Regions from separate parts of the Homo sapiens genome. Here regions 1, 2 and 3 are each linked to region 4. The links come from fine-mapping of genetic effects on gene expression. A gene starts in region 4. Each other region holds a variant in brackets. All regions are shown on one strand. Distances are between the middles of the regions.

Region 1 (8,109 bases), 22 kb after region 4:
AGTTTGTAGGTTTGGGTATTTATGGGGGAAAGTGGTACCCTCCATCCTTTTTTTAAAAAATTGGGCCAAAATTGTAAGAATTCTTTTAAAAACCTGAACATTTTAGATGGATTTGAGCATCTCAACTGTATGTTCGTATCTTGAAATTCCAAATAAACTCAGGAGTGGATAATTCTGAAATCTGAACGTAACTATGCCCTGTTTACCCACAGGCCCAGGTAGTTCAGCCTCCCATCTTTGTTTTTTTCCTTCTCCTAGAAAAGCCAGCTTTTGTGTGGTTTAACTGAACAGTCATGTTGGATTTTTTTTTATTTGAAGACCCATTTTGACTCATCTGCAGCACTGAAGGATTTTCTTCATAGTAATTTGGGAGTTATAGCAGATAGAAAGGCAGAGGCATATTCCAGGAATTTCATGAAATATAAAACACTGAAACACTTGGGATAGGCTAGTTTTCAATGCCTAGGTTACACAAATGTCCAAATTCACATGGGCTTAATTTATTCCAAGTTTTATAATGGGATGGATGTTGGTGAGTTTGGCAATATACCAATAATTTGGATTAAAGGAGAGGTTAGTTTATGAAAAGTTTACGTAACAATCTTAGGCAATTTTATTACCATCATGTGCATACGGTATTTCAAGTCACTATTCAGTGTTTATATCAAATAGACGTTTTATTGAACTTGGAAAAATGAAAAAATTAAAAATGTGTAATATGTACGGTAGAGTGGATGTTGCTGGGATACAGGGCTCCTTATACCCCGCCCACAGTAGTGTGTTAGTCACAAACCCCAAATCTCAGTGGTTTGAAACAACTAATGATCTTACTTATGCTCCATGTGCACAGGGGCCCATAGGTGGGACTCCACTGATTGCAGTCACCTGGGGGCCCAGGCCGAGGGAGGTAGCACCTTATGTTTCCACCATCTCAACCTGAGGAATCAGCATCTGCTGTGGCAGGGGAAGGGCAGAAAGGATCACTCCCTGGCTCCTAAAACCTTTTGCTTAAAGCTAGTGTCACTTCTACCCCATTATTAGGCAAAGCAAGTTACACGGTCAGGGCTTACTTTAAGTTTTCAGAAAAGTATAATCCTTTCATGGACCCAGGAGAGACAACCAGAAATACTGGTGAACAGTGGTAGTAACCTACCACATGATGTGTACTAGTCATGGTTCCTCCAGAGAAACAGAACCAATAGGATGTATAGAGAGATTTTAAGGACTTGGCTCCCACAATTGTGGAGGCAAGCCCAAAATCTGCAGGGTAGGCTGGCAGCCTGGAGACCCAGGGAAGAATTGCCACTCAAGTCTGAAGGCTGGCTGCTGGAAGAACTCCCTTTTCCTCCAAGGAAGTCAGTGTTTTCCTATTAATGCCTTCAACTGATTGGATGAGGCCCACCCACATTATGGGGGGTAGTCTGTTTTATTTACTTTAAATAGGTCTACTTATTTAAATGTTAATCTCATCTTTAAAAAATAGCTTCATAGCAACATCTAGAGTAATGTTTGACCAAATATCTGGGTACCATGGCCTAGCCAAATTGATACATGAAGTTAACTATCATGGTATGTTAACCATATCCTTTGCATTATACATTTTCTTAATCATTAGTAAAGCATTCAGAAGTATAAAGCATCGGTGTGATTTTTACTATATTGAAAAAAGAATTCTTTCTTTGTTAAGACTTGGGTTGAGGGACCTGTGCTCTTGGTGTCTTAATCTATTTTTCATTAGATTCCAAAGAAAATAGTAACTGGTTTCTTCATGGTTTCAGAAGCTGAGTCTGAATAGATTGTTTTGGTTTGGTTTTGTTGCTGCAGTTTAATTTACAATTTTCCAATTAATATATTCCTATATTTAAAAGAAAATGCAGAAGGTGACCATCTTTCATTAGACCAGGTAATTTTATCTCAAGCCAACCAAATGTGTTCCATCCACATACTGTGAGGAGATGATCATGGAGTCTTTAGTATACCTCAGAACTTGCCTCATGTAAAATGTGTCTCAAAGGCACAGGGCATGTTACAGCTAAAACTTTACCTTATCACTTTTCATACAGTGGGTTTTTATGGCTCTCCCTTTTCAGTATATTCAAAACTCTTTACAAGTATCTTCCTCCTGAGAAAGTGCATGTGTTCCTGTCTTGTTCAAAGATGTCCCATCAACAGGACCTGATCTCCAGTTTGCTTTTGTCTTTTTCCTAATTGTGATATTCTTGGCAGAGCCTGCTTCACACCCTGTTCCTTGTCCCCCTGGCACTGACATAGATAGATTTCTGAGATGATTTCTCCATGCTGGGAGTGCAGTAGAGGAGACTCATGAGGATCAGACCTCCACCTTGGTTTCATTAGCCAACTAAGCTAATCCTCACATTCTCCTCTCGTAGTCACTGAACAAGGTAGTCCCTTTTTCCACATGAGGAAACCTGAAGCAAAGAGGTTAAAGTGACTTGCCGAGGGTCACTTGGTGAGTCGCTGCAACTACAGTAACAGTTCCTTCTGCTATTTGATCAAGTGCATAGGTGTGGGCTCCATTGATTTCTTCTTCTAGCATGCATTTAATTAATAAATCAATCTTCTCTTCTGATTCATCCTACCAGTAGTCGAATGAAGAAGGTCCCAAAGTGTGCACACAGACTGCTGTCCTCTACATTCAAAGATGATGTTGCTGACAGTGATTTGCTATCATCCTGCTTGAGTGTGACAGGAAATATCAATAGTTGGCCAACAGCCCTTTATACACCGGGCCAAGGTAGAAAACTGCTCCTTGGCTTGCGTCTGCAGGCACTGTTTGCAGAGACTAGCAGTTTTTGAGATGACTGTCTCTTAGAATTTGTTTTTTCTTCCCTGGAGTCTCTCTAATCCTAATTACTACTCAACAGGCTGTTTCCCAGCAGCCGTTTGCTGGACCTTTGTGTTAGAAGCTGTGCATCATCAGACCCAGTAGGTCTGTAGGAGAGAAGTGGAGACAGGCTGTGTGTGCATCTGAATCGACTTTCCCTCCCTGGGCAATGCTGACTAAATCTGTGGTTCTTTTGTCAGTGACTCATTTGCTCAGATGCTGAATGAAGACTGAAGTAATTTGTTTTTATTTTTTATTTTTGAGACAGAGTCTCACGCTATTGCCTAGGCTTAAGTGCAGTGGCATGATCTCAGCTCACTGCAACCTCCTCCTGGGTTCAAGCAAATTCTCCTGCCTCAGCCTCCCCAGTAGCTGGAGTAACTTTTCGTATTTTTAATAGAGACGGAGTTTCACCATGTTGGCCAGGTTGGTCTCGAACTCCTGACATCAAGTGACCCACCTGCCTTGGCCTCCCAAAGTGCTGGGATTATAGGCATGAGCCACCATGCCTGGCCCCAAGACTGAAGTAATTTAATGTCTTTTCTCACGTGAGATTTGCCATGTCACTTGGCCCCCTTCTCTGTATCCCTCATTCTCATTTTGTGTACTTAGGACTTTCCCAGGCCCCATTCCTTGAGCACAGCCCATACCCCAAAACCACTCTACCCCCAACCTTGGGCACATTGCTTAAAATCACCATGCAATCATTTTAAATTCAACCATGTTAGGTTGTGCATTTTGTGTTAAGTACATTTTTTGTGACATGTTTACTTACAATTTCTCTTTTCTTATTCTTATCATTTTTCAGTGTATTATAAAACATTAGAACTTTTTTTTTTTTTTTTTTTTTTTTTGAGACGGAGTCTCGCTCTGTCGCCCAGGCGGGACTGCGGACTGCAGTGGGCAATCTCGGCTCACTGCAAGCTCCGCTTCCCGGGTTCACGCCATTCTCCTGCCTCAGCCTCCCGAGTAGCTGGGACTACAGGCGCCCGCCACCGCGCCCGGCTAATTTTTTTTGTATTTTTAGTAGAGACGGGGTTTCACCTTGTTAGCCAGGATGGTCTCGATCTCCTGACCTCATGATCCACCCGCCTCGGCCTCCCGAAGTGCTGGGATTACAGGCGTGAGCCACCGCGCC[C/T]GGCCTAGAACTTTTTTTTAACTTTTCATTGAAACTGATCACTTTAAGTACTGTGAGGGAAAAATGCAGGATGTCAAAGAGATATAGCAAGCCTTGATCAAAATGCCGTATTGTGTTTGCATTTCCAGAAAAAAGGGGAACATCTATTGTAAAAAAATTAAAATAGATGGGTGAGAGGTTGAGAGATAATAGATAATAGATACTATTTCCCATGATTAGAACTGTTTTCCTGAGTGAACCTATATACCCTGTTCAGAGAAATGAATTTATTTTAACTGAAAGGAAAACCAGGTTGAATGATCATCAGGTAGAGAATTTTTTTGCGGGGGGCGGTGGGGAATGGACAGAGTCTTGCTCTGTCACCCAGGCTGGAGTACAGTGGTGTTGTCATAGCTCACTGCAGCCTCAACCTCCTGGCCTCAAGTGATCCTCCCATCTCGGCCTCCTGAGTAGCTGAGACTACAGGAGCACACCACTATGTCCAGCTAGGTAGATAATTTGAAAGCCATTCTTTTTAATTAAAAACCAGTGCAGACTTTTAACATGATCAATTTTGCTGCTGTCATTCATTTCCCTTTAATGAAGTGAAATTTACCCCAAATTATGATTCTCTTCTTTCTCCCTCTTTCTACTTCTGTTTTATGGGAGAAGCCAGCTTTTAAACTCTGTAGTTGGAATCCCCTACCCCTACCTCGCCTAAATTATCTTGGCATTATTTCTCTCCTATTTGCCCTTATTCTGAATTTCATGTCAACTTATTTATTATTTTAACAAGCTGACCCTTCCTCAAGCTTTCTGTGTGGAGGGGAAGGGACTGTGCTGGAGTCCCTGTTGTATCTCAGTGGAAGCTGTTCTCCTGACATAGCTGGTGATTTTGTGGGCAGTTGGTGTGTGAATGCCACTGACCTAGGTACTTTAGGAACTTGACAAAACCTGAAGAAAAGAGTTTCCTATCAGGATTTTACAACAGTGAGACCAGATCAATTTCAGTGCCATTGTATATCGGAAGCTCCTTGAGGGCAGAGCTGTGTTTCTCTTGGCTTTTTATTTCCAGTGCCTGAAGGTGCCTGAGATATTGGTGTTCATTTGCTGTTTTCCTGCTGACAAATAATTACATAGAAACAAAATCCTGGTGTCTTTAGATAATTTACCTAGGTCTTTGGTAAGCATTTTGGCTTCCAGATAGAAATTCTCTCATCCTCAGCATCAGGCTCATTATTATTATTTGAAAATTTGAAAACACTGGCAAAGAGGCAAGTTGCAGTGCAGTAATAAGGTCCTTAATTTTCTACCATCTGCTGGAAGTTCATTCTGCTGCAAGCTGACCATCTGATGCATTTTTGGTTTGTTGGGCTGACAGTTTTACTGCTTAGAAATCAGAAGAAACAACACACTGGACTCATAAGGAGAGAATGCTCATTGAACGGGGAATTGATGGGAATTTGGGAAAAAAGGTGGCTGTCATCTTGGCGAGTATGCCAGGGAGTGAAATAAATCTTTTGTTGTTGTTGTTTTTTGTTTTGTTTTTGAGACAGAGTCTCACTCTGTCGCCCAGGCTGGAGTGCAGTGGCGTGATCTCGGCTCACTGCAAGCTCTGCCTCTCGGGTTCACACCATTCTCCTGCCTCAGCCTCCCAAGTCGCTGGGACTACAGGCACCCACCACCACGCCTGGCTAATTTTTTGTATTTTAGTAGAGACAGGTTTTCACCATGTTAGTCAGGATGGTCTCGATCTCCCGACCTCGGGACCTGCCTGTCTCGGCCTCCCAAAGTGCTGGGATTACAGGCGTGAGCCACCTCCCCCAGCTGAAATAAATCTTAAGTGTAGTCAGACACATATCCCAGCCTTTGTGAAAGCAGTTATAAAAAGTTCAGTTCAGGAAAAAAAAAATATCATCTTGTGGGAAGACACAGAAAGTTTATGAAAATTTGTAAAGTATCTTTTTGAATACAAACTCCAAAGAGAAAGAAAAAGAGAGCCTTCAGAGAGCTAACACATATTCAAGTCTTACTTTGTGCTGGCCATTGTTCTAAGCTCTTTACAACTAATTTCATCTTCAGAACAACCCTATGAAATTGATATTATTATTCCATTTATAAATGAGGAAATTGAAGCACACAGAAAGGAAGAAACTTGCTCAATATCACCCAGTTAGTTACTGGCAGAGGTGAGATTTAAACCCAGCAGTCTGGGTCCAGAGACTTTAAACCACTTGCACCTGAATATGTCAAGAAGCCCAAGCCCATTTTGAGTTAATTTTTGTATGTGTTGCAAGATAAGCATCCATTTTCATTCTTTTGCATGTGGATATCCAGTTTCCTAGCACCATTTATTGAAGAAACAGTCCTCTCTCCATTGTGTGTTCTTGGTACCTTTTTCTAAAATCAATTGATCTTAGATATGTGGGCTTATTTCTGGGGTCTCTGTCTTGTTCCATTGGCCAGTATGTCTGTTTTCATGCTAATACCATGCTGCTTCAATTATTATAACTTTGTAATAGATTTTGAAGTCAGGCAGTGTGATGCCTCCAGCTTGTTGTTTTTGTTCAGTATTGCTTAGCTATTTGGGGTCTTTTGTGGTTCCATACATATTTTAGGATTGTTTTTTCTATTTCCTTAAAAAGTGATATTGGAATTTTGAGAAGAATTACATTGAATCTGTAAATTGTTTTGCATAGTATGGACATTTTAACAATATTGATTCTTTCAATTCATGAACATGGGACACCTTTCGATTCGTTTGTGTCCTCTACTATTTCTATCATCAATGTTTTATAGTTTTCAGTATATAAATCTTTCACCTCCCTGGTGAAATTTACTCCTAAGTGGTTTTTTTTTTTAATGTTATTGTAAATGAAATTGGTTTCTTCATTTCTTTTTGAGGTAATTCATTTTTAGTGTAAATAAATGTTACTGATTTTTTTTTTCTTCTTTTTAGACAGAGTCTCACTCCCATCGCCCAGACTTGAGTGTAGTGATGTGATCACTGCTCACTGCAGTCTCAGCCTTCCAGGATCAGGTGATTCTCTCACCTCAGCCTCTTGAGTAGCTGGGTAATAGGGAGATGCTGATCAAAAGGTACAAAATTTCAGTTAGGAGGAATAAGCTTTAGTGATCTATTACACAGAATGTATAATAATGTATATTTCAAAATTGCTAAAAGAATATATTTTAAATGTTTTCACCACAAAAAAATGATAAATGTGTTAGGAGTTGGATTTGTTAATTAGCTTGATTTAATCATCCCACAATGTAAACATATATCAAAACATCATATTGTAGCACATAAATATATAATATATACAATTATTATGTTAATTAAAATTTAAAATAATTACTTGAAAAGAAGACCAAACTCCCAGATATGCTGAGACTTTTCAGAATAAAGTGGACAACAAAGGGACAAGGCCACTCATTAATGAGGATAGCCTGGTGTTAACAGATGGCGTGGAGGCCAGGCAACTCGGGTCTTATTTTGTTTCTTTGTCCTTCAAAAAGAATCATCTCCAAGCTGAAAATATTTCTAGGGGAGAAACGGAATCCACCAAAATAAAGAAGACTGGAACTCCTCTAAGTTAACTCTCCAGGGGCACTGATGATATCACACTGCACAAAGCAACTTGCAGGTGACACAGGAAACACTGTTAGGCACCTGTGAGACATTGAGGAAAATGAGACATGAGCAAATAAATGCCCTGGTTTTAAAAAGGAAGAAAGGGTAGGGAAACAACAGACCAGCAACCTTGATGCAAAAACCGTGAATACTCAAAAGAAGTAGAAAATATGTAGAAAAAAAAGTTGTGGTTTAAAAGCCAATATGGGTTCACTTAAAGAAGGCATGTCAAGACCACAGAATATTTTAATAGGTCTAGAAACTACATCTATTAAAATATGTAGAACCTATACCTTCTACACTACTAAACTAGAAGGATATTGTAATTGTAACATCATCATCATCATTGATGCCACTATCATTATCATCCTGGGTAAAAACTACTGAGCAGTTTCTTTGTTACAGGTGCTATATATCTGCAACACTCAGTATAAACTGCCTCATTTAATCCTCAGAACCAACCACCCTATGTCATAGTATGGTCTCACTTAATCTTAGCAACACATTGAACAA
Region 2 (8,109 bases), 27 kb before region 4:
CCTCATTGGGCTGTTCTTAGTGTTTCATAACAGTCTATAGAGATTCATCTCATATGATGAAACAACTGGCTGCGTGTTCCTGCGAAGCTATGGCCGGCTCACTAATGGACCACACTGTATTTGCTGTCCCTCCTTCCCTGCCTCACTTCCCCTTTTGCTTGACTCAGCCCAGCCTGGGATTATACTACCAAAAAATAAAGCATTAGCCACCAAGCTTAGTAAACTTTCTTGTTTACTAAGAAAGTTAGTACAAGAAGTATCCTAGAAAGGAGGACCTTGGAGTGGGACTTTGAATTTGATGCCCATCTGTCTGAAAACAATCAGATAATTGGGACAGCAATAGCCTCTAGAAGTGGATACACAGTTGCTAATTCTTTCACCTGTGGTTAACTGGGATGAAGTACAGGTGGAGAGCAAACCTGGAAAATCACGGAGCTACCGCCTTTGGTCAGTAAAGGGGTGGCAATTGCAGTGCAGATGAGCTGTTTTTGGGACATTTGAGGCTTTGCTAAAAGAAAATGATACACTCAGGGCATCTTATTATCAACTTAAGTCATGCAATGAAAGCCAGAGGCTCTGTTTAAATGAGGTGCTTATCTCCTGAAGCTGCACTTAAAATTGGTTTAGGATGTAATTATAAGGGTGGCAGATATATATATATATATATATATTTAGTTTTTATATATATAAATAAAACTAAATGTGCAGTCTCAATAGGGACTTGATATTAAAGTCAGGGTCTTGATAGGGAAGAGTGGAAAATTGAGACCTGGAATGGGGATATTTGTAGGCAAGCCTGGATCTTTCTGACTGACAAAAGAGACTGTTTCCCCTTGGTAGTGGTAAAGAATCACCCCTTGCCTGGTAAGCATGCAATGATCAAGCTTATGAAGCAGGTGCCCCCAAAATCACACTGATTCTAAACTTTTCCTCAACACCCACATTAACCTCCTCTCACTGCCTCCAGGCAAATTTTCTTCCTGCTGGGGAATACATAGCCTCTGTGCCAAAGGAAATCTTGACCTTGATGAAATGTGCTGGCAGAAACTGTGGGAACACCTGTGGGAATGGATCTTGAAGGCATTAGACTGTAGGAGGCACACGGGCTGGATCGGTGAGAACGGATTGACATGAACCACTCCACTGTGACAGAGGATTTGGTGTTCTGATAAGGACACCTGGCGCTTGTCCTTACATGCTGCTACAATGATGCCTTCAAGCCTAATCACTATGATGGCCTAAAGTGAATGAAGTAGAGATAAGAGAACTTCCTTGACATAGTTTTGAGAAAGGAGGCAGAAGTCTCAAGGAGGTAGGCATGTGAGAACAGATTCACTTTGTAAGACCTACCACCTGATTATGTTTCCCATAAGGCTGCCTTCATGAGGCAATAAAGAATGCCATGGGGAAATGGGGTTAGAGTAAGTGGTGGGACAGCAGCATCTTTGAGAAACCCAGTGGTGGCTGTCCTCTGTAGGCCAGGTTCACAGTAGGAGGTGCTGCTTTGGAATTGGGCCCCCTTTAATTCATGGTGGTAAAAGGAATGTGGATGATCAAAGACCAGGTGGCAGCCATTAACCATCAAGGAAAAGATAGATCTAATAAGCCTTGTGAACAGCAAGGCCCCAGTTGAGTGAGTGCCTACTTTCAAGGATGTATTGTAATGGGAAACTGACTGGCGAGGGGCGGGGATGCTTGATTTGGATAACTTAACATCAAGAGCTGTTGCGTAGAAGGTGATCATTGCCTTCCACAATAGAAAACTGCACTCCATCATTGAGTTTCCAGATCTAAGTCAGTTAACAGACTCAGAGTCCATTGATTGAAGGAGATTCTGGATCCCACAGAGGAAGGACCCTGTAATGCCACTGCAAGCATATACAGTAAGTAGTCCTCTGATCCTTCCCCAGAGGGAACCAAAGTAATTTGCCAGGGTAACTGGACACTAGGGAAAGAGTAAAACTTAGACTTTTTGAGGACTATCAGCTACAGTATATGAGATGATACTGACAAAAGGAGACCTGAAACACCATCATATTAGAACAGAGACTTGATTAGAAGAGAGGGTTATGGAGACCAAGTCTGTCTACTAAAGGGTTAAGTGGTTTTGGACACCCACTTTGCAATTATTTCTCTTGTTCCCAAAAGTATGATGGAGAAGATATACTTAGCTTCTGGCTGCACCCTCAAATCAATTGCCTGTCCTGTGGAGTAAGAGTCATTGTGGTAGGAAGGGCTAAGTGTAGGGTCTCTCAACCTCAGCCCTTTTGACATTTTGAACCAGACAGTTATCTGTTGTGGGGTCATTCTGGGCATTGTAGGATGTTCAATAGTATCCCTGGCTACCCACTATATGCCAATAACGACCTTTGTTATGATAACCAAAAATGTTTCTAGACATTGCCCAATGTCCCTAAGAGGGCAAAGTCACCCCTGATTGAAAACCACTGGCCATGTTTAAGTCTCTAAAATGGCCTCATCTCTTGTCAATTGCAGGAATAATACCACAATCCTTGAAGAATTACAGAGATTAACACCCTCACCAAAGATAAAGGGATTCATTTCCCTAATATTCTCTTGATTCAATTCTCTGGACTCTGTAAAAATCAGATGGACCCTGGAGGATGATGCTGATGTAACCAGAAAACAGACCTAATCAAAGCTACAGTGCCAGATGAGATATCTTTACTATGGCTACCAACCCTCTAACACTGGATATACAGCTATTGATATGGCAAGGATTTTCTTCTTAATAGCTATTAGCAAAAGAAGCAGCTTGTGTTTTTTGGCTGTCAAGAAATATTTAAGGTCTAAGGTTTCACCCTATTTATAAGCTAACAATAGCCCTCCCACAGTTTCATGGAAGTTTGCAGAAGACATAATAAGATCTTGGGTTAGACACAAACAGCTTTAGCACTCACAGAAAAGGCAGTAACCAGCGCTTCATGTTCATTTGTATTTGTTCCTTGTATCCTCTAAATCCCACAGAGGGGAGCGATGGTGATGACTCAGGTGGGCCAAGAGGATTCCAACTCACCTAGTGTATTGCATTACAACAGAGGGATTCTGAGTTAGGGAATTTACTGCTTTTACTATAAACCTTTGCATTGCCTAGGAGGTTATGCAACTCATTTTTCAAGGTTGCTCAATGCAAACACAATCCTGAGAAATCACCTGGGTAAAGAGTGGTCAGAGCCTTGTATTCTTCGCACATCCAGCAACAATGCACAGGGACACTCAGGGCTCATGAACGGTTCCCACTTTTAGCAGTGGTGCTATGGACTAAATATTTGTGTTCCCCCCAAAATTAATGTGTTGAAGCTAAAATTCTCAATGTGATGGTATTTGGAAGTGGGGTCTTTAGGAGGTAATTAGGTCATGGGT[T/C]GGAGCCCCCATGAGTGTGATTAATGCTATTAAAAGAAGAGACACTAGAGCTAATCTCTCTGTCCACTATGTGAGGAGACAGCAAGAAGGTGTCCATCTGCAAACTGGGAAGAAGGCCCTCACCAAGAACTGAATCTGTGGCATCTTGGTCTTGGACTTCCCAGCCTCACCTTCACCGTCTTGCCTCGGTGTTATGTCAGCTCTTGTCTCTGTCATCATATACTTCACAGGAACCATGGCAACCTTGACATTACATAGAACTTCATGCTGGTCCACGATATTGAGAAGATTATGCTAATTGGACTTGATCAGTAGGAGATTTCAGGAACCCTATATCTGGCAAGTCACATGAATGCCAGAGGTGGGAGATTAATTTCACAGAAGTTGAGGATCTTCTACATTGGTGAAAATTTTAGGAGTCAAGTCACCTGTCAACTTGCCTAAAGCACATCAGAACAACCCCTTATAAAATAAAGCAAAAATGGTTGCCCTTTGCATCTCTTACCACCAAGAAAGAGGCACAGTGCATTTTGGCCTTCTTTGGATTTTAGAGGCAGCTGATATTTCACTTGAGAATATTTCTCTATGGTGAGCTCAATGTGATCAGATTTATAAGTCATAAAGTTGGGCAGAAACATTATTTGATGGAAATGGTATATTCAGGACTTGGCTCAAGTTAATCCAGAAGATACCACAAATTATGTATACAGGTGACTCAAATCTCATGTCACCTACCTCTTTTGCATCAGTGGCTGTCCCTAAATTCACACTTATGGCCTCACGGGGAGGGGACTACAACCAGTTGATGGAAGAAGAAAGGATTTGGACTTTGCTCAGAGTTTGGCCCTTGTGGTCTGGTTGTTCACTGTTCTCAAGTGTAATTTCATGAGGCCCTGCATGGAGCATGCTGTCCTTCCCCAGGCCGTGAGTATAGTATACGTGACTAATGAACTGCTGTCAGTTTTATCTGTCCAGCGTTGGGTGTTGTGTTTGGCCACTCCATACACCTAAAGGGGGAATTCCTCTCTCTCCAACAGGGTAAAGAAAAAGTCAATTAAAACAGTAGGATCAGCTTCTCACACTCTTCAAACCTAGGTTTTCCTGGGTAGGGTCCTGGTTCCAGGAAAGGGAGGTCTTGATTCAGACAAAACAGTGAAAGTTCCACTAACCTGGAAGCTTCAACTACTCCTTAGCCACTTTTCATACTAGTAGAGTAGCAGGCAAAAAAAAAAAAAAAAAAAAAAAAAAAAAGGAGTGGGGCAGGCAGAGGGAGGGAGGGTAACTATATGGGCTGGTAAAACCCCACTCTGATTACTATGAGAAGCTACTGTTACTATTACACCCTGGAAGCATCCTTTGAATTTGTCTGGAATGGGCCCATAGCTACCTGTCTTGGGGACAACTTTGGGCACACTTCATTTAACATACCCAGGAGATGGGTTTTCCCAGGGCTAGGCTCGGACACTACTGCCATCATGTGTGCCATGATGAAAGCCACAGCAGTTTGGTGTCTAGGCCAAACTGATGGGACCCACTGAGGACCTAGCTCTTCCCACCCAGAAGATGTTGGATCTGACTTCCCCCATCAGCTGCCTGGAAGGGCAGGTCATGCAACCCACAAGTGTAAGGGAGTAAATGTCCTATGGGGCAAATTTTGACCCATGAGAGACAGTATACAGAAATAAGGGGGAGGTGAGCTAGTAACTAATTGTTCTCCCCTCCACACACCGAAGGACTTTTTTGAGATGGTGGTTGGTTCCACATAGTTGTATGGATATATGGCATGTGACAAGATAACTTGCTGTGGTTTTCTCTTCCTTTGTTTTATCTTTTGCAAAGCTGTGGCCAGCCTCATAATATATCACTTTATATTTATTCTCCTTCCTTGCCCTCCTCATTTATGTTTTCCCACTCTCTATTGTCCTAAGGTTGCACTCCTTCCCAATAAAGTTTAGCATGTAAGCTTCATCTTCAGGTTCTGTTTATTGTCTTAACTTATGCTAAATCAATGTGCAGCAACAATGGGTTTCTGAATATTTCGGACAGAATAAAATGTACCCACACAATAAAAGGCAGAAGTGGAAAAATACAGTATTTTCAACTGAGACAGGGCACTTTTTGCATGGTGAGTGAGAACAGTAAAACAGAGAAAAACGTGGTACTCTCAAGATACTTAAATTCTTTTTCCAAACTCACCAATCAAATAAGTTATTTCTCTTCTGACTGGGAAAAGTGAGTGAGAGGCAAGGATAGCCCACAGGCTATTCTATTACCTGCCGCCCCAAGGATACATGACCTCAGGGAATTAGTTCTCCTTTCATGGTGACCAGTGTTTGGCATTTATTCCTTTTGTAATTGTCCCACAGTTTGGGGGGTATTCATCTTTTCAATTATTTTTTCTTTTTGTCTTTCAGATTTGGAAGTTTCTTTTGGCATAGCTTCAAGTTTATTGATTCTTTCCTTGGCTGTGTCCAGCCTATTGCTAAGCCTTCCAAAGGCATTCTTCATTACCATTATGGTGATTTTGATTTGCAGCATTTCGTTTTAATTCTTCCTTATAATTTCTATCTCTCTACTCACATTACTATCTTTCTGTTTGTTCTTGCATGTTGTCCACTTTTTCTGTTATAGCCCTTAACATGTTAATCATAATTGGTTTAAATGCCTGGTCTGATGATTTTACAATCTCTGCTGTATCTAAGTATGGTTCTGATTCTGCTTTATCTCTTCAAACTGTTTTTTGTCTTTTAGTATGCCTTGTAATTTTTTTTTGTTGAAAGTAGCATGTGATGTAGTGAGTGAAAGAGAATGAAGAGAATAAACTTTTAGTGCAAGGTTTTATGTTTACGTGGCCAGAGTTAGACTTTGTTTACTGTTTGCTGTAGCTGTAGGTATCAGAGACTAATTTTTTTTCTGGTGGCCTTGTTTTAGTCTCTCCTGTTATCTTTGGGTTTCTTTAGAGGCTTCTTTTTTTTTTTTTTTTCTGAGACAGAATCTCACTCTGTCACCCAGGCTAGAGTACAGTGGCGCTATCTCGGCTTACTGAAACCACCACCTCCCAGGTTTAAGCAATTCTCCTGTCTCAGCCTCCTGAGTAGCTAAGATTACAGGTATGCACCACCATGCCTGGCTAACTTTTGTATTTTTAGTAGAGATGGGGTTTCACCATATTGGTCAGGCTGGTCTTGAACTCCTGACCTCAAGTGATGCACCCGCCTCGGCCTCCCAAAGTGCTGGGATTACAGGCATGAGCCATCATGCTTGGCCTAGAGACTTCTAAAATAAAGTATGGGAGGTGCAGTTATTTCAGTTGTAATCTCCTGTTATTGTATAGGAGCCTTATTGATGTGTTGATATGATGTGGGGAAAGGCGAATCATTCTATGGGCCTATGATTAGGTAGCAGTATTTCAGTGAGCCTGTGCCCCTGAACCATGGCCTTCACACATGCTTTTCAGTTTTTTTTCTCTTAGATGAGACAGGAAGGCTACAGAGGGTTAGAGTTGGTTATTTTTCTCCCCCCAGGTAAGTTAGGTTCTGGTAGACCCTACTTTGGTTAGGCTCTTGTAAACTGGTTTTCCTTGAAGGTAGGTCTTGTTAGGAGGAATAGAGCTCTGGTATATTTCAAAATGACTCTAGACTTCCCAGACTTACAATGGTTTGACTTACAATTTTTCAACTTTACAATGGTACAAAAAGTATACACATTCAGTAGAAACCATACTTCAAGTATCCATACAAACATTCTATTTTTCATTTTCAGTGCAGTATTCAATAAGTTACATGAGATATTCAACATTTAAAAAAATAGGCTTTATGTTAGATAATTTTTCCCAGCTCTAGCCTAATGTAAGTGTTCTGAGCATGTTTACGGTAGGCTAGGCTAAGCTATGATGTATGGTAGGTTAGGTATATTAAATGCATTTACGATATTTTCAACTTATGATGGGTTTATCAAGACATAATCCCATTATAAGTTAAGGAGCATCTGTACATGTCCCCTCCTGCTGATGGAAGCACAAATGACTTTTTTGTAACCTTCACTGTAAGAACCTAATAAGGCTCCTGGAGGTAAAACTCTTGAAAGTGTGGAGGCCCCCTAAGACTGGGCTCCCCCTGGCATTTTTAACTCTCAAGCTGTCCACACGGGGCCTCTAGCAATTCATCAGTTACCGTTTAGGTTGTCTGGCCCTGGTACTGGTTCCTGTGGAGGTTTCTCCTCCAGTAAACCATGTTTCTCTGAATCCACCTATCTCTCCAACTTTTAGGGCAGCGGTTTGCCTTGTGACTTCAATTCTCAGATGGATCTAAAAACAGTTGTTGATTTTTAGTATGTTCAGCTTTTTTCTTGTACAGATGGGAGAAATGACTTCCAAGCTCCTTACATGTCAGACTGGAAACTGGAGAGCGAGACTTTTCTTTTGCTTGCCATTTATAAACTAAAATTTTAGGGAAGGTGATTCAGTATTATACTAATAAGGCTGCCTACCATGACCTACAATATTGTGCAATTCTTGCTCTACATGTATAAATATATGCGATTGGTGAAAAGCAAACAAAAACAAAACCCTGAAAGATAAGAACTGGTATGATATGGGGGCCATGAAGTCTTGTGCTCAGCCTAAGTGGGCCAAAGTTTAAGAGCCACTACAGCATATTGTGACCTTGCCACTTAGCCACCTATGTCCCAAGGATATTATTTCTTCCCTTACCTCCACTGAACCTG
Region 3 (8,109 bases), 70 kb before region 4:
ATCAGATGGTTGTATACATGCAGCTTTATCTTTGGGTTCTCTATTCTGTTCCACTGTTCTATTTGTCTGTTTTTGTACTAGTATCATGCTGTTTTGGTTACTGCAGACTTATAGCATAGTTTGAAGTTTGGGAATGTGATGCCTCCAACTTTGTCCTTTTTGCTTAGGATTGCTTTGGTGATTTTAGCTTTTTGGTTCCATATGAATTTTAAAATATTTTTTCTAGTTCTGTGAAAAATGACATTGGTAGATTGATAGGAATAGCATTGAATCTGTAAAGTGCTTTGATAAGTATGACTATTTTAATAATATTGATTCTTCCAATCCATGAGCATGGAATGTTTTTCCATTTATTTGTGTTATCTGTGATTTCTTTCAGCAGTATTTTGTAGTTCTCCTTGTACAGATCTTTCACCTCCTTAGTTGGATATATTCCTAGGTATTTCATTTTTTTGCAGCTATTGTAAATAGGTTTGCATTTTTAATTTGGCTCTTAGCTTGAATGTTAATTGGTGTTTAGAAAGGCTGAGTTTTATTTTAAAAATAAAGGATACACATTACTTAGTTTTAAAATTTAAATATAAGTAAGTACACAGAAAAAAAAAACCTTACTCTTAATTATCTAATCTGGAAGGTCAGCAAATTATGGCGTGTGGGCCAAATTCAGCCCACAACCTATCTTTGTCTTTAAGGTTTTATTGGAATGCAATCACGCCCATTCACTTATGTGCTACCCATGGCTACTTTCTTGCTGAAATGGCAGATGAAGTAGCTGTGACACAGACTGCATGGCTCACAAAGTCTAAAATACTTACTATGGGCTGGGTGCTGTGGCTCATCCCTAAAATCCCAGCACTTAGGGAGGCCGAAATGGGAGGATCTTTTGAGCCCAGGAGTTTGAAACCATCCTGGGCAACACAGGGAGACCCTGTTTCTAAAGAATATAAAAAATAAAAATAAACTAGCTGGGTGTGGTGGTACATACCTGTGTTCCCAGCCACTCGGGAGGCTGAGGGAGGAGGATTGCTTGAGCCTGGGAGGTCAAGGCTGAAGTGAGCTGTGATCATGCTACTGTGTTCCAGCTTGGGTGACAGAGCAAGACTTTGTCTCAAAACACATAAATAAAATAAAATAAAGCAAAATACTATTAGTCCCTTTATAGAAAAAGTGTGCCTACCTCTCATCCAATCCCACCAACTAAAGATCATCATTATTATTTGGCATATTTTCTTCTAATATTTTTCTATGTGTATACATATATTGGAAAAAATGAAATCATATTCTATTTAGTGCCCACAATTCTGCAAATAATGGAAATGTTATACATCTGCACTGTCCAATATAATTATTGAGTATGGAAATGTGCCTTCTGTCACTGAGAAACTAAATATTTAATTTTATTTAATTATAATCAATTAAAATTTAAATAACCACATGTGACTAGTGAGTGCCGTTATGAACAGAACTTTCTTGAAATATTTGCTTAATATTTCAGGATCATTTCTTTAAATCGTTAAATTCCTTATGAAACCCTTTTTATAACTGTATAATGTTATAATGTATGGATGAGTCATCATTTACTGAGCCAAGCGCCTATCACTGACACTTCGGTCCCAGTTTTTCACTATTATAATCCAATTCCATGATGAACATTTCTGTGCATGCAAATATTTGCACATGCCTACGATTATTGAATTAGGATAAATTTCTACATGCAGTATCATTTGATCAGAGAACGTAAATATTGTTCAGAGTTTTAAAATATATCATCAAATTGCTAGAGAGATCCTTCCATCCTGCCTACTTGAGAACAATACAGGAGAGTGCCTATTCCCCATATTATTCTGCGTATATTTTTAAGAATTGTCTTGAAAAGAGTCTCCTCCCTTATCTGTTCCATCTGGACTGTCAAAGAGATGATTGAGTAGGATACTTTGTGAAGACTCAACAGTGAATTGAGAAAGATGGGGACTGAGATCAGAATGGAGCATTTTCCACTGAAGTTGTCTACACAATCAAGGCTTTGGGCCACTTGAATAATTTGCATGATCACTTCTAAATGTAGTGCTGTGGGCAAAGTCCTTATGCTGTGGCAGGTCTTGACATTGAAATATTCTTGCTTGGGGGCAATGAAGACTTAAATGGACATGTGTGTGAAAATGAAATAGAAATGTAAATGGCGGTCGGGGTGGGTGGAGGTGAGGGGGTTGGGGGTGGGGATGGCAGTAGCTCCTTTTCATTCTCTCCACCTCCCATCCCCCAGGATGGAAGATTTAAGAAACAGGCAACAGACCAGGCGCGGTGGCTCAAGCCTGTAATCCCAGCACTTTGGAAGGCAGAGGTGGGCGGATAACGACGTCAGGAGATGGAGACTATCCTGGCTAACAGGGTGAAACCCTGTCTCTACTAAAAAAATATAAAAAATTAGCCGGGCATGGTGGCAGGCACCTGTGGTCCCAGCTACTCGGGAGGCTGAGGAGGGAGAATGGCTTGAACCCGTGAGGCGGAGCTTGCAGTGAACCGAGCTCGCGCCACTGCACTCCAGTCTGGAAGACAGAGTGAGACTCCGTCAAGAAAGAAGAGAGAGAGAGAGACAGAGAGAGAGAGAGAGAGAGAAAGAGAGAGAGAGAGAGAGACAGAGAGAGAGAGAGAGAAAGAGAGAGAGAGAGAGAGAGAGAGAGAGAGAGAGGGAAACAGCCAACAGAGAAATAAAGGAACGGAGGAACAAGGCCACGGGAAGTGAATAAGCTCAGGTACCAACCACAAGTGGTGTCAACAAACATAAGATGTGGGGGATAAGAGCAAGGGTCTTCTGGTGAGAAAAACATGGAATTGAGTTTTACTCTGCCACCTCATCATGCACCCTGAGTAAGTGGCTTTATCTCCCTGGGCCTCAATTTTCTCAAGAGAATAATAATAGTTCTCTATGTTTAAGGATCATTAAAAATAATCAATGTGAAAAATTCAACACAGGGCCTGGCTCATATAGCACTACAAGTGAGGGCCACTGATGGGATTAGGATTATCTTTCTCTCACGCTGAAAATCAGGGGGGCTGCCTCCTCCAGGGCGCTAGTCCACACAACCCCCTCATGGAAAGCATCCTCACCACCAACAGGCAGGTCCCCTTGGCCTGGCACACAGCCCAGCTATAGCATATGTATTGCTCAAAGAGGATGGCACTTCTTGTAATGTGCTTTACCCAGGCGTTCTTGAAAGTCAGTGACCTACCATTTAGGATGGCCTGGGCTACATGGCGCCCCCAGGATTTGGGGGTGGAGGTGACTGTCACCTCCCCTGCCTTAATAATTACTCTCTTCCCAATAACTGATTAGAATGGGTCAGATCAGACCTGCCCAAGGCTGCCTATGCCTGCAGACATTTTCCCACCTATGCTTATTCCTCATCTCTAAAATGTACCAGTTTTGACTTTTTTTTTTTTTTTTTTTTTTTGGAATTTAGAAACTCTGATCTCTACCATTCAATGCAGGGGAAGCGCTGTTATATATCTGTTGTGTAACATAGAGAGAGAAAAAACACATTAGTCGATTTGTAGGCAACTATATTCCTCTCCTCCTCTTGTGGCTGTTTCTCTACTTCCTTTAAAATAAACAAAGGCCAAAAGTGACTTCGGAAAATTCCCAAAGGGAAGAATAAAGCCAACATGAAAGACTGTCAAAGGCAGGCTTGCCGGATTTATAAAAGCAGGGAACCCCTCCTACCCTGTCTCCATCCACACCCACCCCCTACTCCATACACACACTTCTTTTTTAGCCAATGCCTCAGTTAGCACAATACTAACATTTCAGGGAAGGCTTGGGTGATTTTTCTTTAGGAAATAATGGTCAACACTATTCAAAAACCAAACAAGCTAAAGCTGTTCCTTGAATTGGTGATATATTTGCAAAGATGAAATTACACAATCCAGACATGCTAGTTATGAACACAGAAAATCTTCTACTTCTCTGTTCAAGGGTCAGAAAATGAAGAAGTCATTTAGATATTTACCAACTTCACAGTGGCTGCTGAAAGTGCCAGCCAAGTTTTTGAAACAAAAGAAGAGATGGCCATGCAGCTCACAGGAGAAGCAACTGCAACCCAATTGAAGTATTTCAACAGCTGGTTTCATCACCAACAGGAGAAAGCTGACTCTTTTGTGGAGTTCAGAAAGTGAGTGAAAAGGTTACATTTTCATAAAGATGTGCATAGGCAGGGCATGCAAAACCAGTCCTTTCTTGCTTTAGAAGAGACAGAAATCTTGAGCGTGGACATACTTTCAAGTTCCAGCACGTAGATCCATGGTCATGATCGGGTGGCCCAAAACTGCCTGCCTTAATGAAGATGCTCCCGGGCCTACACATGGAACAATCATGAACCTTCAAGGGATTTCTT[T/C]TGTGTCCTTATCCACCACATTCACATTCAATTTACCTAATACATTTCCTAATGAAACAATTAATACATTCACATATGAAACTAATTAAGACAGAGCTACAGCTTTGCCTGCTTTTTCTACAATTGAATTACTGAGACTCAGCCTGAATTCTAAAACTCTCTTCTTGAGTCATTAGGGGAGGAAAACGAACCACATGTGTTGTGAAACTTGCACATCATGGGCTCCCTGTGTTGTCACCAGTGCAGGAAGCGACACACTCCTGGAGTAGTGGGTGGACCTGTGGGCCCGGCATGGTGGCTCATTCCTGTAATCCCAGCACTTTGGAGGCCGAGGTGGGTGGATCACAAGGCCAGGAGTTTGAGACCAACCTGGCCAGCATGGTGAAACCCCATCTCTACTAAAAATACAAAAATTAGCTTGGCATGGTGGTGAGCACCTGTAGTCCCAGCTACTCGGGAGGCTGAGGCAGAAGAATCGCTTGAACCCAAGAGGCAGAGGTTGCAGTGAGCCGAGATCTTGCCACTGCACTCCAGCCTGGGCAACAGAGCAAAACTCCATCTCAAAAAAAAAAAAAAAAAGCTCCTATAGAACACAGAACTCAAGATACTGACACCATTGGTCTTGTAGCTAAGATGCCTGGAAAGTCTAAGTGTCTATGTTGAGTGTTTACCTTTTTCAGGTGTGACTTTTCTGAGAAATTGTAAGTATGTCATGTCTTGGACATTCTGGGCATTCCAAATCATAAAATAGGATTCCAGATTATTCTGAATGGCTGTATTTACATCATCCATTTCAACATCCATGTCAACATACATGTTGCTGAAGGGGTAGCTTTGGGAACTACTGCTCTGAACACAAATTAATGGTAGGAGGTACTGACTGAAAGCATCATGTGGTAGAAAACCCCAAATGCTTTTTTCAAGAACTATATATGAACTGTGTTTGTGCACGCACAGTTGTATGCTCATAAACGTTAATAAATTGGTATTGGGCAACACAATTAACATTCATTTCATTGGAGGCCCACAATATGCTAGGATTTTTTTCCCTTAATGATGTTTCAGAGCAGGATGCTTTGGTCCGAAATACATTGAAACACGCAACAATGAAATTCTATTTCTTTCTAGTAGTATGTTAAAGGCACCATGGGGGACACAAAATTATGAACCCCAAACTGCACCCTCAGGTTATTTACAGCCTATTAAGAAAAGCCATGTTTTTTCCCAATAACAGAGAATTCAAATACAGCTAGTCCCTGTGTTTGTTGTCAGAAAGAGAAAGAAAACCATACTTTGTTGGGACACATCATTATTAGTGTAACAATATATAAACATATGTCAACATGAAAAGCTTAATTTAAAGTATCATGGCATTACAGATCCCTTGTCTGAAGAATAAACTCAGTCAAAGAAAGTTGGAATGACTTGCCCGGGGTCACATAGTACTGATGATATCAGAACCCAGCTTTTTGACTTCCAGGTGGAGAATTACAGGTAAACTGAGAGTCCCTGGCTGGGTTTGGTCAGGTCCTTTATGGCTCTATAATGCTACGACTCTCTGAGAACTCTATGACCATGCTGCCACTCTCCTGACATTCTTTTAATTAATAAAATCACTCAGCTGAACAAAAATAATGGTTTCATTAAGATGCAGAAAATGCCACATTTAATCACTAAAAATGGCATAGTGTATCATTCACCTTAGGGAAATTTTTATGTTTAAATATGCAATATAGAGATATTTTAGATAATTAGCAACAAGGAAAGGCAACTAATCTATTATTGCATAATATTTGATTACCTATTAACTTCGGCCATGTAATTGAACACATAGCCAATGACTGTCACTTCCTGGCACTAAAGCCCAGGTAGATACTGCTCTGTTTTCATTCTGTCATTCTAGCCATTTCTAGGATGAATTTCCTTTTATTTGGAAGGAGGTTTTAAACTGAGCATTTGACGTCACATTGTTACCCACTGAAAAGTGCTCTCTGTAAGTGCTTCCTGAAGAAGGCAAGGTTGAAGTGAACCCTTTCAAACCAATGCGTGGCACTTTGTTAGCATTTGCTGAGTGTCCAGCACTAAGCTAGGCTTGTGAGGTAAGAAAAGAAAGTTTGTACCTGTTTTTATCACATGGGGCCAGTTACCTTTGTCTGCCTTCCAGGCCCTGGTTGCTAAATCCTGGGAAGTCTGTAATTACATTAGAAGATGGGATTATTAGTGATAAAATGTGGTGTTTTATAGATAGTGCTCTGAAACTTTGTTTCAATGGCCTTTCCCACACAGTATCTCAATAACCCTAAGGTAGGCAGGAAAAAAAATGTTACTGAGGCTCAGAGAATTTAAATGGCCTGCCTGAAATGTGACAGAAGGCAGACCCAGGACTAAAATGGAAGTCCTTGGAAGCCTGGCCCAGGGCCGTTCCTTCCTCACAAGGAAGGACTTGTAAAGAGCTTGCTTAATTCAAGGTTCCTTTGGCCTGGGATATCCTTTTGCTCATGCTCACCTGATGCCTCCAAGATAGGATTTCTGGGTATCCCTTCTTACCTGACATGCGTTCTGGCCACATCTTAGCCTGTAGTGCTCATGTACCTTCTTAGTCTCTAATCTGTCTATTGGTGCTTTGATATGTTAACCACGGGCTATCTTACTCCCTCAATTTTATTTTTGGATAAATTGGAGAAAACAGTTTTAAAACGATGAACTATAAGACTTTGATGCTGATTCTTTATTCTCAGTCCCAAGCTTTGCCTATACTTCAAAACAGATCTCAATGGACAAGGAAAAATAATATCAGCATTTCACTGGGCATCTAAAGTGCTAGGCATTGTGCTAAAAACTTTGAATGTTTTTAACATTGTATCAAGATGGGGACTGAAGGGCTTTAAACCCAGGCAGTCTGAATCCAGAACCCAAATGTCAGCTATGACACTGCTGTTGTCTCCCACAATGCCATACTTGCAAGTTTTGTGTAACACAGAGCATTTAGAAATCTCTTTAAAATTATGAAATTCTGGGTTTTCTTCCCCTGCTGTGGCCCAAACACAAACTAAGAACATACCTAACGAACAGCTGCAATTGATATTTTCATCTTAATTAGGGATTAAACATCAAATAAATTATTCTATTTAAGATGATTTATGATGTCCTAACTTTTCCAGTAGTTCATTTCAAACAGATTTTTAATAGTAGGAGAAAACAGTACCATAGTAACTTTTTAAAGTATGTGTGGGAAATTAACTAAAAATATTAAAAAGATCACTCACCCACTGTTAGCCTTTATTTTTTACCCCAAAACAACATGAGAAAATGAGTTTTTTCTTTTACCTTTGCTGTACCTTCCTCTTTGAAAATAAGCCCATTAATAAGAAGATATAAAAGGAAAATGTATCTCAAGACAAATTAAACTTTTTAAAAGAAACAGTTCTATCAAAACAAGTTTGCAAATAAAAAATAATTACCAAATGAACATATTAGGGGAGTGTAGCCATTAGGCATGTTTTTATTATGCAATAATTTATCCATGAACAGTTTATATTTCATATCCATATTACAGTGTTTTTTTTCCAAGTCACTGGGAGTACTCAAGCAGAGCTGATGAAAATTCATCAATCTGGGAAGTTCCAGAAGGGATTTTGCAGTGAGTAGAAAGTTGAAATCTTGGATGATAACGTCCCTTCCAATTTGAAGATTCTATAATTTCCAACTTAGGCAACTG
Region 4 (8,097 bases):
AGTTAAAAGAATCACATACCTTGGCAACCATTTGCTAATTTTGAAAGTATTCCCAAGTGTTTATATACTATATTTATTTAAATTGGCCATATGATTTTAATTGGTTTCACTGTGGTAGAATTAGCTTCATTGAAGTAGATGTACTCTCCTACAAGCTGAATAGCAGCCCTGTGTAGCACAGATTTCCAACATAAACTATAATTCATAAAGGCCAACACAACTCTTTTCTTTGTAGCTGGGTAACCATTTATGTTTGAGGTGAAGATGTTAATATGGAAATTTTGTGAGCTAGGAAAGAGGATGAACGCTATCACTCTAATTTATGACCTTTCATATAAGGCCAAATGTAAAGGCAACTTCAATTGTTTTATATCTCAGGGCCAGCACATAGCAGATGTATGAAATTTGGAGTGTTAGACATAAACTTTTATTACCAAATTATAAATAATTTCTCCCACTTATAATGTTCACCTTTCAAGTTCATCTTGATTAAAATACAAGGGCAGCTTCACACCGATTTCACTAAATTTTACAGCTGAGAGAGGTTTTCTAGAGTTCACGGTGGAGTATAAAGCATCACAGCATTTGGGAGATTCTCCTTCCAGGAGCTCAGACTCTGATCCTATCTCTTTTAAAATTCAAGTCATGCCAAAATGATGGCTGATGAAGTCCGAACATTATTTAAACATCTCACATGTTACATCTGAAACCAAGCGCCCATGATGTAGAATATATCACTTCCTTGGGTAAGCAAAACGACATACTACTTTTTCTGAGAAATTTGCCCACCAGTCAATGAGCTTGTATCACTTCTTAGAAGGTATTCAACAACCAGAGAGTGTCTGTCTGTTTCCTTATTTTCTTTTTTCCCCTCCCTCCCTCTTTCTTTTCCTTCTTTCTTTTTCTTTCTTTCTTTCTTTCTTTCTTTCTTTCTTTCTTTCTTTCTTTCTTTCTTTCTTTCTTTCTTCTTTCTTTCTTTCTTCCTTCTTTCTTTCTTTCTTTCTTTCTTTCTTTCTTTTTTCCTTCTTCTTTCTTTCTTTCTCTCTTTCTTTCTTCATTTAAGAAACAGTCTCGCTCTATCATCCAGACTGGAGTGCAGTGGCATGATCTCATCTCACTGCAACCTTAGCCTGTCGGGTTCAAGAGATTCTCATGCCTAGCCTCCCAGGTAGCTGGGATTACAGGCATGTGCCACTACACCCAGCTAATTTTTTAATTTTAAGTAGAGACGGGATTCAACATCTTGGCCAGGCTGGTCTTGAACTCCTGACTTCAAGTGATCCGCCAACCTTGGCCTCCTAAAGTGCTGGGATTACAGGTGTGAGCCACTGCCCCCGGCCTCTCTTCATTTTCTATAACAAATAATTTTCATATCCCATGATTAAAGGCAGATAATGGTGGCCCCAAGTATCCAAAACTAGCACATCACAGCTTATGAGCTCCTATTGTACAGTCTGAAGGTCCAGGAAAGGTTCAGGTCCATGCCAGCACTTCATACCAGTTAATGCATTGCTCCAACAAGACCAGCCAGTATTCTTGGAAGCTTAACATCCATGTTACATATTAAAATCTGCTTTGGAGAGTGTTGGTCAATCCAATTACATGTTTGTATTTATCATCATCATCATCATCATCAACAACAACCACAACAACATCACAATACATTCATCTACATGTTCACAGGGCTGTTGGGTGTTTAATAAGCTAGACATGAGACCATCTTTTATGAATATGAAACATTGAAGGACATAGTTATTTAAAGGCATATGTACTATAGAACTGTAGAAGGGACAAACAATGAAGTGGCAAGAGTTCTCTTAGCATTTATATATCTGCATTTGTCTATTTTAAGCATAATAGCTTCAAGAGAATGAAAAGACAAGCCATAAACTGGGAGAAAATATTTGTAAAACACATATCTGATAAAGAACTATTATTCAAAATATACAAAGGACTCTTAAAACTCAACAAAAAGAAAGAACAAACTGATTCAAAATTGGGCCAAAGACCTGAACAACCAAAGATATACATATGGCAAATAAGTATATAGAAAGATCCTCCATATCATATGTCACTAGGGAATTACAACTTTAAACAACTATGAGATAGTCACTAAGCAGCTATTAGACTAGTCAAAATCCAAAGGACTGGAAGCACCAAATGCCCATGAGGATGTGGAACAATGGAAACTCTCATTCACTCCTAGTGGGAATGCAAAATGGTACAGCCACATTGTAAGACAGTTTGGCAGTTTCTTACAAAACTAAACATACCCTTGCTATATGATCTAGCAGTCATACTCCTTGATATTTGCCCAAATAAGCTGAAAACTTATTTCTATACAAAAACCTGCATACACATATTCATAGCAGCTTTATTCATAACTTCCCAAACTTGGAAGCAACCAAGATGTCCTTCTGTAGGTAAATGGATAAATAAACTGTGGTACATCCAAATAATGGAATATTATTCAGAACTTAAAAGAAATGAGTTGTCAAGCCATGAAAAGGCGCAGAGGGGTCTTAAATGCATATTTCTAAGTGAAAGAAGCCAGTCTGAACAGGCTACACAGTGGGGTGGTGCAGTGTATGCACCACTAACTGTGTACGGTATGATTCCAAATATATGATATTGTGGAAAAAGGCAAAACTTTGGAGACAGAAAAAAGATCAGCGGTTGCCAGTGGGGAGGAAGGGATAAATAGGTGGAGCACAGAGAATTTTTAGGGCAGTGAAACTATTCTGTATGATACTGTAATTGTGGGTACATTTCATTATGCATTTGTCAAAACCTATAGAATGTGCAACACCAAGAGTGAACCCTAATGTAAACTTTGGCCTTTGGATGATAATGATGTGTCAGTGTAGGTTCATCAGTCCTAACAACTAAATGAAACTAAACTACATAAGTTAAACTAAAGCTTGCCAAAATATTTTTATGACTTTAAGGCTCCTTAATAAATTAATGTTTACATTCAGGGTTTTGAAGACTAGTATTCACCAAAAGTCTTGCAGTGTTTTCTTTGCATCATAAAAGATGCTGAAAGCAAAAACCTGGGAAATACGGAAAATTGCCTTGTGAGTTAGTAAAAGTCATTTATAAGCTGCTGAGGGGCTTTTGGGAACAGCCACACTTTTTATAAGCTTGTTAGCTCATGAATTAATTCAGGATGCCCACCCCGTGTGTCAAACTGGGCCCTTACCCAGCTACTCCCCTTAGAGAAGGTTGCAGCTGCTCAGCAGATGAACTAGGCCCTTAAAACTCCTCATGGCTCCCTACCCACCACACTAGTGTTAACGGCTCGATTAGGGCTCTGTAGGAAAGGGAAAGAAGTTTGAATCAAAAATTTTCTTTTTTTTTTTAATAATTTAAACAATCAGTAAGGAATGTGCAATTTGATGTCGTTTGCAAAGAAAGTTTTTAGGAACAGGGCTTTTTATCCTATTATGTTTGTTCTTTGCACGTAATTATTTGATTTAAATGGTACTTTTCTTAAAATTTTTATTTACATTGTATTTTATATTGCAAGAACTTCAAATACAGCCCTCACAATAAATCAGTAACTGTTCGGTCTTTATCCAAACTGAACTTTTATAGAAGGATATAAGGAAGTCTCTATTCTTTAACAAATCATATCCAGTTGTTTTCTGTCCCTGATATCAATCAAAAGTTCATTTCTTCTGCCTTTAACCAAAAGAAGTTTACAAGGGAGGAACTCTTTATCTTCGAAAAAAATTTTGCATCTTAGATTTTATAACACCTAATGGGGTTAAGGATCTGTGTTGAAAGATCTTATCACTCTGTGTATAGTGTTACAAATCATAAATATAATTAAAGTATAAGTTTTCAACTGATGAGAGTATATGTGGAGGGGGAAAAACGAATCAAGTCCTGGTGTAACAGTTCTCTTCTTTTTCCCTTTCAATTCCATTAATAGAAAGAGTATTGAGAATTCATGCAAAATTCCAAACCAAGTTCCCATAGTAGCACTGAAATAAGTCTGCACACCATTTCCAATAGGAACTAGTAATGTAACACAATTAATGTCATTATAATTTGGAGTTACTTGAGTGATTTTGATTATTTTTGTATCAATTAACATTGCCATGGAAACAGTCTCTTGCTAAAATGGCTTAAGTCTTCACACATTTAATCAATATCCAGAGGTAGATTTAAAGACTTGAGGTGTTTCATTTATTTATTTATTTGCTTTAAACTATTCAAGGACGTTTCTGGGTACACAATGCCGTTACTTAAACAGTAAATTCCAGTTTCCTATGACTTCAAGTTATTTTTTACACTTCTGTAAATAAATCCTGCCCAAAAGATCACTTCTAGTTTCCTGGAATTTTGTTTTTGTTTTGTATTGTATTTGTTTTGTACTCAGATTTCTGTTAGAGGAACTCCACTGCACCAATTTTGCTACTAGACAAACCAGGAATCTTGGATTTGCGCGCTTTGGTGCTGACAGGCTTTTTCGGCCCCAGCGGGCTGCCGTAGCAGAGAAGAGCACTGATTGGCTGAGGCAGAAAAGTGCCCCTGCCTCGGCGCTTTCGGTTTTGGCTGGGATCATCCGCGGCGGCCGGGCTCGTGGGGCGCCTGGAGTGAGGGTTCTGGTTCCCGCCGGCGAGGTGAGCCGCACCGCTGCGCGGGCCGACGACGGGGCCGGGCGCAGCCCCAGGTTCGGTGCCCCAGTGTTCAGTCGCGCTGTGGAGCGGCGGCTGCAGCGGCCCTAGGCCGGGCGAGGCAGCCCCGGAAAGGGCCTGCGGTGAACAGGCTGGGGCTCCGGGAAGGGACCGCTGGGTGGCGGGTCCCCGCGAAATGCCGCGTCCAAGCTCTCCGCGCATGGAATGGCTGGGAGAGGTCTGATGGTGGGCGCCGGGACCGCCCTCAGCGAGGCGCCTAGACTGCGCGGAGAGGAGCGGCACCGTCCCGGCTCCTACCGAGTTGGCGTCCGAGATCAATTCAGGTTGTTGAAGTTCCCCAGGGAGCCCCGACGCTAATCCCAAGATTCGGCGGGAAAGCGGATCCCGAACCCAGGCCTAGGCTTCGCCTGTCTTCCAGGAGGGCTTCAGGGAATTGCGAACCCTCTCCTACATCGGGGTGGCTGCGCCTGACCACAGGAATTAAAGGCTGGACTCGCCTGTCTTACCAAGTTGTCAGGTCGAGGAACCCGATTGTATGGTCTTAAGTCCTATCGCCCAAGGTTTTCTGTGCGTATGCGTGTCCGCACACCTGCATAGCAGGCATTTTTAAGGTGTGTAGGATTAAGATGATGCGGATTACCCTGCCCCACTGCTCTTAGTAATACGTGACTATTGTAGAAAATTGCAAACATAGAAGACTTTAGTGAAGAAAATAATATTCACTGAACCCTTTCACCTACGATCATTTTCTCTTGTATGTGCTAGCTTCTACTTGAACTAAGAGTGTACATGTTTAATCACTTAACAGTGTAGTTTTCCACTTCCATTTAAAAACTCTTCCTAAATATTATTCTAATTTTGTATCTTCTTTTGATTGTCCTATCATTGTGGGTCCCAGTTTAGGTCCCGTAAATTATTCAGTCATTTCCCGATTGTGGGACATTAGATTGTTTTTGAATTTTTACATCATCTTAGCATCCCAGATAGTGCTTTGATAAACTCTTTTCCCCCTATTTTTTAGATTATTTCCTTGGACTAGATTCTCAGAAGTGAAATTATCAGATTAGATGCTGTCATCTGAAAGGTCTGTTTTAGGCCTTCATACACATTGCTGCAGTGTTTTCCAAAAAAGTTTTAGAGATGTTTGGTAATTTTACTTGCTTAAATATTGTGCAGAAATCTTGAGAGGCTTGTGTTTGTGGTGTGTGTGTGTGTGTGTGTGTCACTGGCGTTAATGCGTTAGACTACCTGAATGTTAGGGCAGGAAGAGACTTAAGTGGTCATCTGGCATAACTCCCTTATATTGCAGATGAGGAACCTGGGGCCATGAGAAGTGAAATTATGAGTTATCCAAGTCACACAGCTAATTAAGTAGCAGAGCTGGGATTAGAACTCAGGTTTCCTGCCTCCCAAGTGAGTACTCTGTGCTGTATCAGGCAGTCTCTCACTGAACTGTGGCATAGTAGATACTAGAATTTAAAAATTTGTTTACATCACCTGGGTTATTCTCTCCTTTTAAAAGTGTACTAACAGATTTTAATCATCGGAGAGACCTGTAACACTGAAAAATTGGAAAGTGATCATTTTCATGGCCAAGACTAGAAATCCATTATTTAGAATGGCAACCCCTTCAAGATTTTGACAGTTGTTTTCAGGTTCCCTATATGTTAGAATAAAACACCCCTGATTAATTATAACCTACACTCCATCATTTGGTTAGAATGTAGCTTTTGGTTATCATTTGCGGTACCTTGGAGATTTCTTTAAAACTCCTCACTTTAAAACCAAAGAACAATTTTTTTTATTTTTATTTATTTTTATTTATTTTTTTATTTAGGGCTTATAGCAGAGATTGTCAACTTCCATTGACATTTTGTGCTGGGCAGTCCTTTGTTGTGGAGGGCCGTCCTGTTAGTTGTAAAATGTTTAGCAACATCCCTGGTCTCTACCCACTAGGATAGCAGTAGCACCACCTTCCTCAGTCATGACAGTTCAGTGTCCCCAGATATTTCCAAGTGTCCCTGAGCAGGGTGGGGCAGGGTTGGGGGTACTGCCCCTAGATGAGAACCATTTGCTTATAGAAATTATCTGGAGAACTTTATAAAATGTAAAATACAGTGCCTTTACCTGAGTAGACTTCGGGAAAATCTGCATTTTAACAAGCATCTCTAGATTTGGAAACAGCTGGTTCTTGAATGACACAAACAGTTGTTTTCTCAGTTTTTGGTGCTCATAATAGAGATTACTTGGTTAGTATTTGTTGAAGTACATGCATGATCCTACTGGTCACTGTATCCATAGTTTGGGCTGATGGGGGCTGGACAGGGATTTTGCTTGGCACTGGCCTTGAATGTCTCTTCCACAGACTTGGGTAGTGTGCTTAGGTACCAGGGACACCAAGTGAGTAAGATATTTTCCCTGTCCCCAAGAAGCTTTAAATTCGCACGGGAGACCAGTCAGCAAATGGAAAAATTACGAAACAGCCTGATAAGGGCCATGACTGAGAGTGGAAAGAGGTGCTCTGAGTGGACTCACTTCGCCTTTGGGAGAGAGGGAGAGAAGTAGCCCCTGCTGCCGAGGAAGGAGGGATTGGTATGAAGCCTTCAAAAGACAGCGAGGAACTCCACTGTGTCCGAAGGGAGGATTTAGAGAGCTGTTCTTCTGCCTATCTGATCGCCTCCTCAGACACTGATCTATTAGTCTAGTGCTGCAATTACTTGGATTGTAATGTTTCCTTGCAATTTTTGCTTTTCAAATTCTTTTCACCCTAAACTGTAAATACGCCAGGAGTAGGTAAAAACTTACAGGTAAACATTGCCAAGAAATAAGGATTTTCATGTCTTCTGCTCAGTGGCATAACTCAAATCACATGAGATAGATTTCTTTGCATCTGTCCATTGTATTTCTCTGAGGCTAATTTACAGCACTTTGTCACGTTAGGTATTTTTTTTCCCCAGTGCTGCTACTCTCCAACTGGATTTCTCACCGCCTCTATTGCGATTCCCCAAGATTTAACCAGAGAATCTTAACATATTCAGAAGGGCAGCTGTACCTGTGAAAGGGCTTGGGCTTTGGGGTCAGCCTTGGCTTTGCTTTCCACCTCACAGGGTTTCTCTGTAAATTGCTTATGAATCTAACTCTGGTAGCACATAGTTGGGTTAATAAAAGTTCTTTTTTTTCTTCATTCTTTTACCAAAAAGAAAAAAATTCCCTGCAGGGCACTTTGCAGATGTTTTCATACTAGACCTCTCAGTAGCTTCTGACAGAAAATATACTGCCTTTGACTTAATAGTCATTTATGAAAATAGGTCATTTAAAACAAGCCTGAGTAGGAGTCAGGGGAGGGAGAGGAGGTATAGAGAGTGATTATGACTTTAATTTTGAAAGGAGAAGTTTTACCAGGGTGACCCTGAAGAAAGGTCTTTTTCCTCTTATGTGTTTATGGTTCAAG

Alleles and levels. Positions count from the first base shown, and alleles are read on the strand shown. Sizes are in standard deviations (SD) of each study's normalised expression. Not every link is listed here.
With allele T in place of C in region 3, the expression in fibroblasts of the gene that starts at base 4,538 in region 4 is lower (small effect, 0.38 SD a copy in GTEx).

Evidence for each region. PIP is the estimated chance that this variant, and not a neighbour inherited with it, causes the effect.
Region 1: its variant is fine-mapped to the expression of LSM6 in whole blood (TOPMed, PIP above 0.99).
Region 2: its variant is fine-mapped to the expression of LSM6 in neutrophils (BLUEPRINT, PIP 0.95).
Region 3: its variant is fine-mapped to the expression of LSM6 in fibroblasts (GTEx, PIP above 0.99).

The regions. Positions count from the first base shown.
Region 1 is chr4:146,193,018-146,201,126 of GRCh38, forward strand. No RefSeq gene overlaps it. Among named protein-coding and RNA genes, the nearest start is that of REELD1, 17 kb to the right of the region's middle. The variant C/T (reference allele first, on the strand shown) is at 3,984.
Region 2 is chr4:146,143,977-146,152,085 of GRCh38, forward strand. No RefSeq gene overlaps it. Among named protein-coding and RNA genes, the nearest start is that of LINC01095, 26 kb to the left of the region's middle. The variant T/C (reference allele first, on the strand shown) is at 3,385.
Region 3 is chr4:146,101,591-146,109,699 of GRCh38, forward strand. It overlaps LINC01095 (long intergenic non-protein coding RNA 1095), which reads right to left. Exons shown (of 6, transcript NR_038331.1): 6 at 7,865-8,109. It overlaps LOC105377469 (a long non-coding RNA gene), which reads left to right and starts at 4,087. Exons shown (of 3, transcript XR_939294.1): 1 at 4,087-4,169; 2 at 6,295-6,490; 3 at 7,948-8,035. RefSeq lists an enhancer at 4,651-4,700. The variant T/C (reference allele first, on the strand shown) is at 4,392.
Region 4 is chr4:146,171,181-146,179,277 of GRCh38, forward strand. It overlaps LSM6 (LSM6 homolog, U6 small nuclear RNA and mRNA degradation associated), which reads left to right and starts at 4,538. Exons shown (of 4, transcript NM_007080.3): 1 at 4,538-4,631. RefSeq lists a silencer at 4,688-4,747.